2 separate regions of the Homo sapiens genome follow, and region 1 is linked to region 2. The links come from fine-mapping of genetic effects on gene expression. A gene starts in region 2. The other region holds a variant in brackets. All regions are shown on one strand. Distances are between the middles of the regions.

Region 1 (4,380 bases), 94 kb before region 2:
ATGGTCTCGATCTCCTGACCGTCGTGATCCGCCCGCCTCGGCCTCCCAAAGTGCTGGGATTACAGGAGTAAGCCACCGCTCCCGGCCTACTTATCTATTTATTAACTTTGAGTCCAGTTTATGAAAACAGTTAGTTTTTGTATTTTTTTAGAGACGAGGTTTCACCATGTTGCCAAGGCCTGGATCGAGGGATCCACCTTCCCTCGCCTCCCAAAGTGCGGGGATGACAGGCGTGAGCCTACCACGCCCGGCTCCTCCCCTTCACCCCCCAGCTTATCCCTCAGGTGCCCGAGGTCGAGTGGTGGTGTGTGGTTCCCACCCCCAGCGCCCCCTCCTCCGGTCACCGCCGCGATGTCCACCAGTGGGTCCTGAGGGAGCTCGTTGGTGTGGGGGTCGAGGCGGTTGAGTGAGACGCGCCCCTCCCACGCGGGGAAGGGTGCCGCCTGATCTGGCGAGCGCAGGTCCCGTGCTCCCCTCTGGCGGCTGCGCACGGGCCGTGTGAGCTATTGCGGTGGGCTGGGGCAGATGACGCGTGCGCCGGCCGGCCGCCGAGGGGCTACCGTTCTGCCTCCGACAGGTTGTGTGTGGGTTTACTTGGAGGTGCTTTGCCTGGGAGAAAGGAGGCTGGTGGACTAGGGGGCCCTTCGGGGATTGCGCGCACGCGCAGCGGCCAGGCCCCCTGCCCAGACCGCGAAGGCTCAAGGTTGCCGCACGCAGATTTTTCCTGGTACCGCAGGCCCCCTCCCTTCCCCAGGCGTCCCTGAGCGCCTCTGCGGGCCCGACGAGGGGCGACTGGCGTGTGGGGAGTGTGACCCACCCTCGGTGAGAAAGCCTTCTCTAGCGATCTGAGAGGTGTGCCTTTGGGGTACCGGATCCCCCGGCCTGCCGCCTCTCTTTGCGTTATGGTAGCGCTGCCGTGGCGACTGGCTTGCAGAGGACCCTCCTCCACTTCCCCCTTGATGAGGTGAGTGGGGGAAAGCAAGGGTTCCGCCAGCCTCCGCGGTGGGGACCCAGGGAAGCTCGTCGCCTACTGTGTGGCCCGCGCCTTCCCCTTCCGAGTCAGGGGAGAATCCCGCCGGGCCGGGCCGGCGTCCTAGCGGTTGGGAGGCTGCGTGAGCGGTGGCTGTGCCTGGCGTTCAGTCCGGCTTGTGACCCGTTCCGCTGTGAGCCGGCTCTCTGCCCGCTCCCCTGCAGAGCAGCGACCGGTGCCGACGACCGTGTTTGCGTGGCACGGGGTTGGGCCGCCTGGCCCTGGGAAGCGTCCCAAGTGGGGGGCATGCCGGTCTCCTGGAGCTTGACCGGGTTGGAGGATGGATGAGAAACGAGCAACGTGGCCCTGGCGTTAGGTTTGTGGCTGAGGTCACCTCGGGGTCCTGATGGCGGGACCTGGGGCTCATGAGGCGGGTCTCGGTGGTGCCGAGGGCCGTCCGGCATCCTAGGCGGGTCGCTGCGGTACCTCCCTCCTGTCTGTGGCGGTGGGATCCCGTGGCCGTGTTTTCCTGGTGGCCCGGCCGTGCCTGAGGTTTCTCCCCGAGCCGCCCCTCTGCGGGCTCCCAGGTGCCCTTGCCCTCGCGGTCCCTGGCCTTGCCTGTCTGTGCCCCCCACCCTGCCCGCGGATCCTCTCTCCCCGAGCGGCTCACCGCCTTAGGCTGTGGTGGCCCCGTCTGGGACCAAACCCGGCTCTGCCTGGTGGGGCGCCGCCGCTAGCCACTGGTTGGCCCGTTGTCCGTGTCCCCGGGCGTGCGCCTTCGGGACCAGGTCGGCGGCACCCCGAGTGGGCCTGGTGGACACCCGGAGGGTTTGGGGTCGGCCAGCAGTGTGTGCAGGGAAGAGGGTTCAGGGGGCTGGCCGCGACAGTGGCGGCGGTGGGGAAGCCGCAGGCCCGCCGAAGGCCAGTCGGCCGCTCCAGGTGCCGCGAGGGGCCGCCTTCATGC[C/T]CCGAGGCCACTGGCGGTGAGACCCCAGGCACCGCGGTCCGCCTCTCCTTCGCTGCCCAAACGTCGGGGCCGCCCCGCGCCCTCCGCGCATGAGTGGCCGCCGGTCCCTCGCGGCTGCCGCACACGGGTCGGGCGGTCGGCCTCCTCGCACATGGGCACGAAGGGTCGGGAGTGGTGAGCCCGTCGGGGGGTTTTGTGTCCTGTGGGTGGATGGGATGTCCGGTTCGCCGCCCCACCACCCCCCTCCCACCACCCCAAGCTGCTCCCTCCCTCCCCCACGCCCCATCGCCCGCCCTGCCGCGCCCAATCTCGCAACTGGGACGCCGGGCTCATCCTCGCGAGTCCCAGAGGCCGCTTTCTACCTACCTGGTTGATCCTATCAGAACCATATGCTTGTCTCAAAGATTAAGCCATACATGTCTAAGTACGCAGGGCTGGTACAGTAAAACTGCGAATGGCTCATTAAATCAGTTATGGTTCTTTTGGTCGCTGGCTCCTCTCCTACTTGGAAAACTGTGGTAATTCTAGAGCTATTACATGCTGAAGGGCACTGACCCCCTTCACAGGGAAGATGCGTGCATTTATCAGATCAAAACCAACCCAGTCAGCCCCTCTCCGTCCCCGGCCGGGGGGTCGGGTGCCGCCAGCTTTGGTGCTTCTGGATAACCTCGGGCCAATCGCACGCCCCCCGTGGCAGCGATGACCCATTCGAATGTCTGCCCTATCAACTTTCTATGGTAGTCGCTGTGCCTATCATGGTGACCACGGGTGACAGGGAATCAGGGTTCAATTCTGGAGAAGGAGCCTGAGAAATGGCTACCACATTCAAGGAAGGCAGCAGACACTCAAATTACCCACTCCTGACACGGGGAGGTAGTGACGAAAAATAACAATACAGGACTCTTTCTAGGCCCTGTAATTGGAATGAGTGCACTTTAAATCTTTTAATGAGGATCAATTGGAGGGCAAGTCTGGTGCCAGCAGCCGTGGTAATTCCAGCTCCAATAGCGTATATTAAAGTTGTTGCAGTTAAAAAGCTCGTAGTTGAATCTTGGGAGCGGGTGGGCTAGCGAGCCACAGCCCGTCCCTGCTTCTTGCCTCTCGGTGCCCCCTGGATGCTCTTAGCTGAGTGTCCTGTGGCCCGAAGCACTTACTTTGAAAAAATTAGAGTGTTCAAAGCAGGCCCAAGCCGCCTGGATACTGCAGCTTGGAATAATGGAATAGGACCACAGTTCTATTTTGTTGGTTTTCGGAACTGAGGCCATGATTAAGAGGGACGGCCGGGGGCATTCATATTGCACCGCTAGAGGTGAAATTCTTGGACTGGCAGTTTAGACCAGAGCGAAAGCATTTGCCAAGAATGTTTTCATTAATCAAGAACGAAAGTCGGAGGTTCGAAGACGATCAGATACCGTTGTAATTCCGACCATAAACGATGCCAACTGGCGATGTGGCGGTGTTATTCCCATGACCCGCTGGGCAGCTTCCAAGAAACCAGTCTTTGGGTTTTTGGGTTCCGAGGGGAGTATGGTTGCAAAGCTGAAACTTAAAGGAATTGACAGAAGGGCACCACCAGGAGTGGAGCCTGCAGCTTAATTTGACTCAACATGGGAAAACTCACCCAGCCTGGACACGGACAGGATTGACAGATTGATAGCTCTTTCTCGATTCCACGGGTGGTGGTGCATGGCCTTAGTTGCTGGAGTGATTTGTCTGGCTAATTCCAATAACGAACGAGACTCTGGCATGCCAACTAGTTATGTGACCCTGGAGCGGTCGGCATCCCCCAACTTCTTAGAGGGACAAGTGGCGTTCAGCCACCTGAGATTGAGCAATAACAGGTCTGTGATGCCCTTAAATGTCCAGGGCTGCACGCGCGCTACACTGACTGGCTCAGCGTGTGCCTACCCTATGTGGCAGATGTGGGTAACCTGTTGAACCTCATTGGCGATGGTGATCAGGGATTGCAATTTTTCCCCATGAATGAGGAATTCCCAGTAAGTGCTGGTCATAAGCTTGCATGAAGTCCCTGCCCTTTGTACACACTGCAGTCGCTACTCCTGATTGGATGGTTTAGTGAGGCCCTCGGATCAGCCCGCTGGGTCAGCCCACTGCCCTGGCGGAACGCTGAGAAGACAGTCGAACTTGACTATCTAGAGGAAGTAAAAGTCGTAACAAAGTTTCGGTAGGTGAACCTGCGGAGGGATCATTAACAGAGAAGAGCGAAGCCACGGAGACGCCGCCATGTCCTTCCTCCTTGGCTGACCGTGTTCCCCTGTGGCGCATGCATGGGCGGAGTCGTGCCCTTTGTTCGTTGCATGGCCCCACCTGCCCCGAGAGCCAGAGAACTCGGGAGGGAGAGAGGGGGTAGAAAGAGACATGCGTGTGGGGATGAAACCGTGTGTGCGTGTCGTGGGGCGGGCTGGATGGCTCGCAGCCTGGTGAG
Region 2 (4,380 bases):
TGCACTCCAGCCTCAGCCTGGGCAAGAAGGCAAGAAGAGCAGAACTCCATCTTAAAAAAAAAAAAAAAAAAAAAAAAGAAAAAGAAAAAGAAACAAAGAAAATGCATGAAGACTGAAAGGAAGAGAAACTGCAAACAACTCATGTGATCTGGTTGGTATAGCTGTCTCCTACAGGAAATGGGATAGCGATTCTGATATTGATAGAGAATGAATGTATATTGGAACTAGACAGTTAAGCAAACGGATGACAAATGACAGGAGCCTGGTTTCTCATTATTAAAGTGGGAGGTTACATGTAAGCAAGGGGAGAAGGCCGGAATGATCATGTGATAAAAGAATTGAGTCGTAGACATCAGTATGAACTAACACTTACACACATTACATTTAGAAATATTTATAGTTATGTGTATACACAGCTTTGTATACACACATTTATTTCTTTGCTCTGTAAACTAAGACGGTCTAGAAGCAATGATATCCCAGCAGAAATGAGCATATCTAACACTCAAGTCTTCAATTCTTGGGTTTTTGTTCATGATCCAGGATCCAGGAGTTGGGCCCTGGGGCTGGGCATTGTGTAGCCTCCGGGGTGGTGCTGAGCATCCATTCCCACCCTCCTGCAGCTGGGGACCCATCCCTTGACTTGGGCCCCCTGGAGGCAAGAACATGGTCACCCACTTTAATCACATGGTCCCTATCACATAATCAGAGGGCTCTGTGGGTTTTAATTCTTCAAGCTAGATGTGTAAACAATTCGACATAGATAAGATATAGTGACTAGAAGTCTTTCATTTATTTATTTTGAGAGAGAGTCTCTGTTGCCCAGGCTTGGAGTGCAGCGGCACAAACAATCAAACAATAACCAAAATCCAGAAGACTGAAAAGGTCAAATGCTGTCAAGGATGGGGAGCAACAGGACCTCTCATTCCTTGTTTGTGGCACAATCAGTTTACTGTACCCACGAACTCCCAGGCCCAAGTGATCCTGCCACAATCAATCTCCCAAGTAGCTGGGGCCACAGGCATGCACCACCATGCCTGGCTGATTGGTTTTATTTTTATAGAGATAAAGTTTCCCTGTGTTGTCTAAGCTGGTCTCAAACTCCTGGGATCAAGTGATCCTCCTATCTCGGTCTCCCAAAGTGCTGTAAGTACAGGCATGAGGTCCTGCACCCAGCCTGGAAGTCTTTATAGATAAGTTCAATTTAACTGTTTCTCCATCTGCTCCACTCAGCCGAGTTTCCCTCTCAGTCCAAGGGTGAGAACTGCAGCTCAGCCCCATCCAGGAGGGCTGCAGATGACCCAGCGCCACTGCCATACTCCAGATGCTGGTCAACGAGGAAGGGATCCTGAGGCCTGGCAGCGGGCGCTCTCAGGAACCTTGAAGCCCTCTAAACGGGACCCGCCATCCGTGCCTGTCAGAACTGTAGCCGCTACCTGCACTTGGCGCACAGGCAAATACGGCCAAGCAACCCCAAACTCCCCTCTTCCCCTCTGGGCCCAGGCGGCGCTGAACCTGCTGCTCAGCCGCATCCTGGCGACTGCACAGTGCCCAGAGCCTGCAAACCAGCGCTCAGGGCGCGAGCCAAGGAAGAGCAGGGCCTAGAGTGGGAGGGCGTGTGCCACACGGCTACCCTCAGGCCGTCGGGCCCAGCCCTGCAGCCTCTACCGTGGGCTCAGCTGCAGCTGGCATTTGAAGGTGGCAGCAGCGGTGGCAACCCCCGAACCTGTCCGCGCCACCAGCAGGCGAACCCCAGGGTCGGACACCGCCACTGCGCCTAAGTCAGGCAGTGGGACCTCAGTTGCAGGATCGTGGGAACCTGCCGCAAAGCCTCATCGCCGCAGCTGTACAGGGCCCAGTGGTGGCAAGCCTGCGCTGCCAGCGCGAGCCGAGGAAGAGCAGAGCCCCGGGTGGAAGGGCGATGTACTCGGCGATGCTCAGCGGTCTGGGCCCAACCCTGTAGCCTCTACCATGGGCTCAGCTGCAGCTGCCACCTGAACATGGCACGTGGCAGGAGAGGCTGCAACCCTGACCCTGCCAGCGCCACCAGCCGCGCGGATACTTGGGCCAGAAGCCTCCAGGCGCCTAAGTCAGGGATGGGTCCCTGGCTGCAAGAGGCCGGGAACCGACGCTCAGCGCCACCCTGGAGGCTGCACGATGCCCAGCGCCAGGGCCCAGCTCCTGGATCTCAGGTTGAGGAGGGGACAGGGGCAGCTCTGTCAAGCAGGCCATGTGGCAGGGAGCCCCCCACGTTCCGCTCCAGGGAGCCCCGCCAGCCCGATAGCGCCTCAGTAGCAGGTGCCACCTGCACGCCGTGCTGGGCGAAGCGCAGCCAGGGCGGTTTCCTGCCTCGCGTGTCTCCCAGGTCTGCTGAGTTGCGCATGCGCTGTTGCCTAACGGTTCTGCTCAGCTGCCTAAAGGTTCTGCTCAGGTGCCTAACGGTTCTGCTCAGCTGCCTAACGGTTTTGCGCAGCCATTTTCTCCCGGGAGAGGTTGGAGTGTCCAAAAGCTTGGCCCGACTGAGATTTCTAGTCTTGTCAGGGCGGATGCAGGGACTGAAGAAGGGCGAGGGCGAGCGGCGGGGACTGGGGAAGGGCGAGCAGCGGGAGGCACGGGCTCTCTCTAGCAGGTGGCTGCAGCCATGGAGAGGCTCTCTGCCGCCCCTGTCAAGGGCCAGACGGGCCCAGAGCGCCCGAGCCCCTTCAGTCAGCTGGTCTACACCAACAACGACTCTTACGTGATTCACCATGGGGATCTCAGGAAGATCCACAAAGCTGCCTCCCGGGGCCAAGCCTGGAAGCTGGAGAGGATGATGAAGAAGACGACAATGGACCTGAACATAAGAGATGCGAAGAAGAGGTACCAGGCCCTGCCTGAGCCGGGGCTGCAGGAGGAGGAGGAGGCTGTGGGAGGATCGCCCCTTCAGAGTGGGGCCTGGGGGTCCTGGGGACGAGGGGAGCAGGTGGAGGAGTGGCGGGCAGCGGGGCGGCCGTCCTGGGCCCCGAGGTCTTGGCCTTCTTCCCGGGCAGGTCCCCCAGGCCTTGGATGAGGGCGCCCTGCAGGGCGGAGGGCACAGGCCACCTTAAAATCAACCCCAAACTTTAGCTGCTTTCTCCTTCACTCCCACTTCCTCTCACAGAGCACTGTGTAGAGAATTTTAAAGTGATTTAACTTATAAAATTAAGTACATACAGGGTTTTACTTTTAATGTACAGGTTTTAAAAGATGTTAGATACATTATGAAATGGTGCATAATGAAATAATTCCCATAATATATTAACTTCTTGGCTAAAAATTTTTTGGATAAAGTCCAGTATCCATTTCAATATCAATGAATGTCTATGTAAATATATTCTTTGCTGAGGGACCTTAGAAGGTAACTTTGAGGTGGGAAGATGGTTTATGTTTTCGAATTTAAGAAGACTCATTTTTCTGAAGATGCAAGTTCTTTATCAGTTTTACATAAACCAAATAAAGTTATCAACGTTTTAACATTTTTAAAATTACACACGCTGTCTTTTACTATTGTGGTGACATTTAAAACATTTTGTAACGGAGTAGAAAAGTCTTGCCCTTCTAGATTTCAAAATGTGCTATTAATTTGCACAAAATGGGCCATGGCCAGGCGCGGTGGATCATGCCTGTAATCCCAGCACTTTGGGAGGCCGAGGTGGGTGGATCATGAGGTCAGGAGATCGAGACCATCCTGGCTAACACGGTCTCTACTAAAAATACAAAAAATTAGCCGGGCGTGGTGGTGGGCGCCTGTAGTCCCAGATACTTGGGAGGCTGAGTCAGGAGAATGGTGTGAACCTGGAAGGCAGAGCTTGGAGTGAGCCGAGATCGCACCACTGCACTCCAGCCTGGGTGACAGAGCAAGACTCCGTCTCAAAATAATAATAATAAATAAATAAATAAATAAAATTTGAAAAAAAAAAAAAAAAAGGGCCAGGCGTCGTGGCTCATGCCTGTAGTCCCAGCACTTCGGGCGGCCAAGGCGGGTGGATCACCTGAGGTCAGGATTTCAAGACTAGCCTGGCCAATATAGTGAAACCTCAAATCTACAAAAATACAAAAATTAGCCAGGCAGGATGTCGGGAGCCTGTAAGCCCATCTACTCGGGAGGCTGAGGAGGGAGAATCGCTTGAAACTGGGAGGCGGAGGTTGCAGTGAGCTGAGATCCCATCACTGCACTCTAGCCTGGGAGACAGTGAGACTCTGTCTCAAAAATAAATAAATAAATCACAAATTATTTGATAACAGCTGAAAAGACAGGTAAATGAATACAACAGAGTAGAAAATCCAGAAACACCCAAATATCTAAGAATTTAGAACTTGATAATGCTCACAGGTTATACTAGTAGGGAAAGAATTAGTTTC

Direction of the effects. Alleles are on the strand shown, and positions count from the first base shown. SD is a standard deviation of normalised expression in the study named.
As copies of C replace T in region 1, the expression in putamen of the gene that starts at base 2,395 in region 2 goes up (large effect, 1.3 SD a copy in GTEx).

Evidence for each region. PIP is the estimated chance that this variant, and not a neighbour inherited with it, causes the effect.
Region 1: its variant is the best candidate, but not a certain one, in a credible set for the expression of ANKRD30BL in putamen (GTEx, PIP 0.80).

What each region holds. Positions count from the first base shown.
Region 1 is chr2:132,254,113-132,258,492 of GRCh38, reverse strand. It overlaps MIR663B (microRNA 663b), which reads left to right and starts at 1,413; the gene lies at 1,413-1,527. It also overlaps a transcript of ANKRD30BL not described here, the pseudogene LOC107985804 and the pseudogene LOC110467533. RefSeq lists a silencer at 3,103-3,397. The variant C/T (reference allele first, on the strand shown) is at 1,935.
Region 2 is chr2:132,159,967-132,164,346 of GRCh38, reverse strand. ANKRD30BL (ankyrin repeat domain 30B like) reads left to right here and starts at 2,395. Exons shown (of 6, transcript NM_001358416.1): 1 at 2,395-2,859. The coding sequence starts at 2,642. RefSeq lists an enhancer at 1,602-2,102.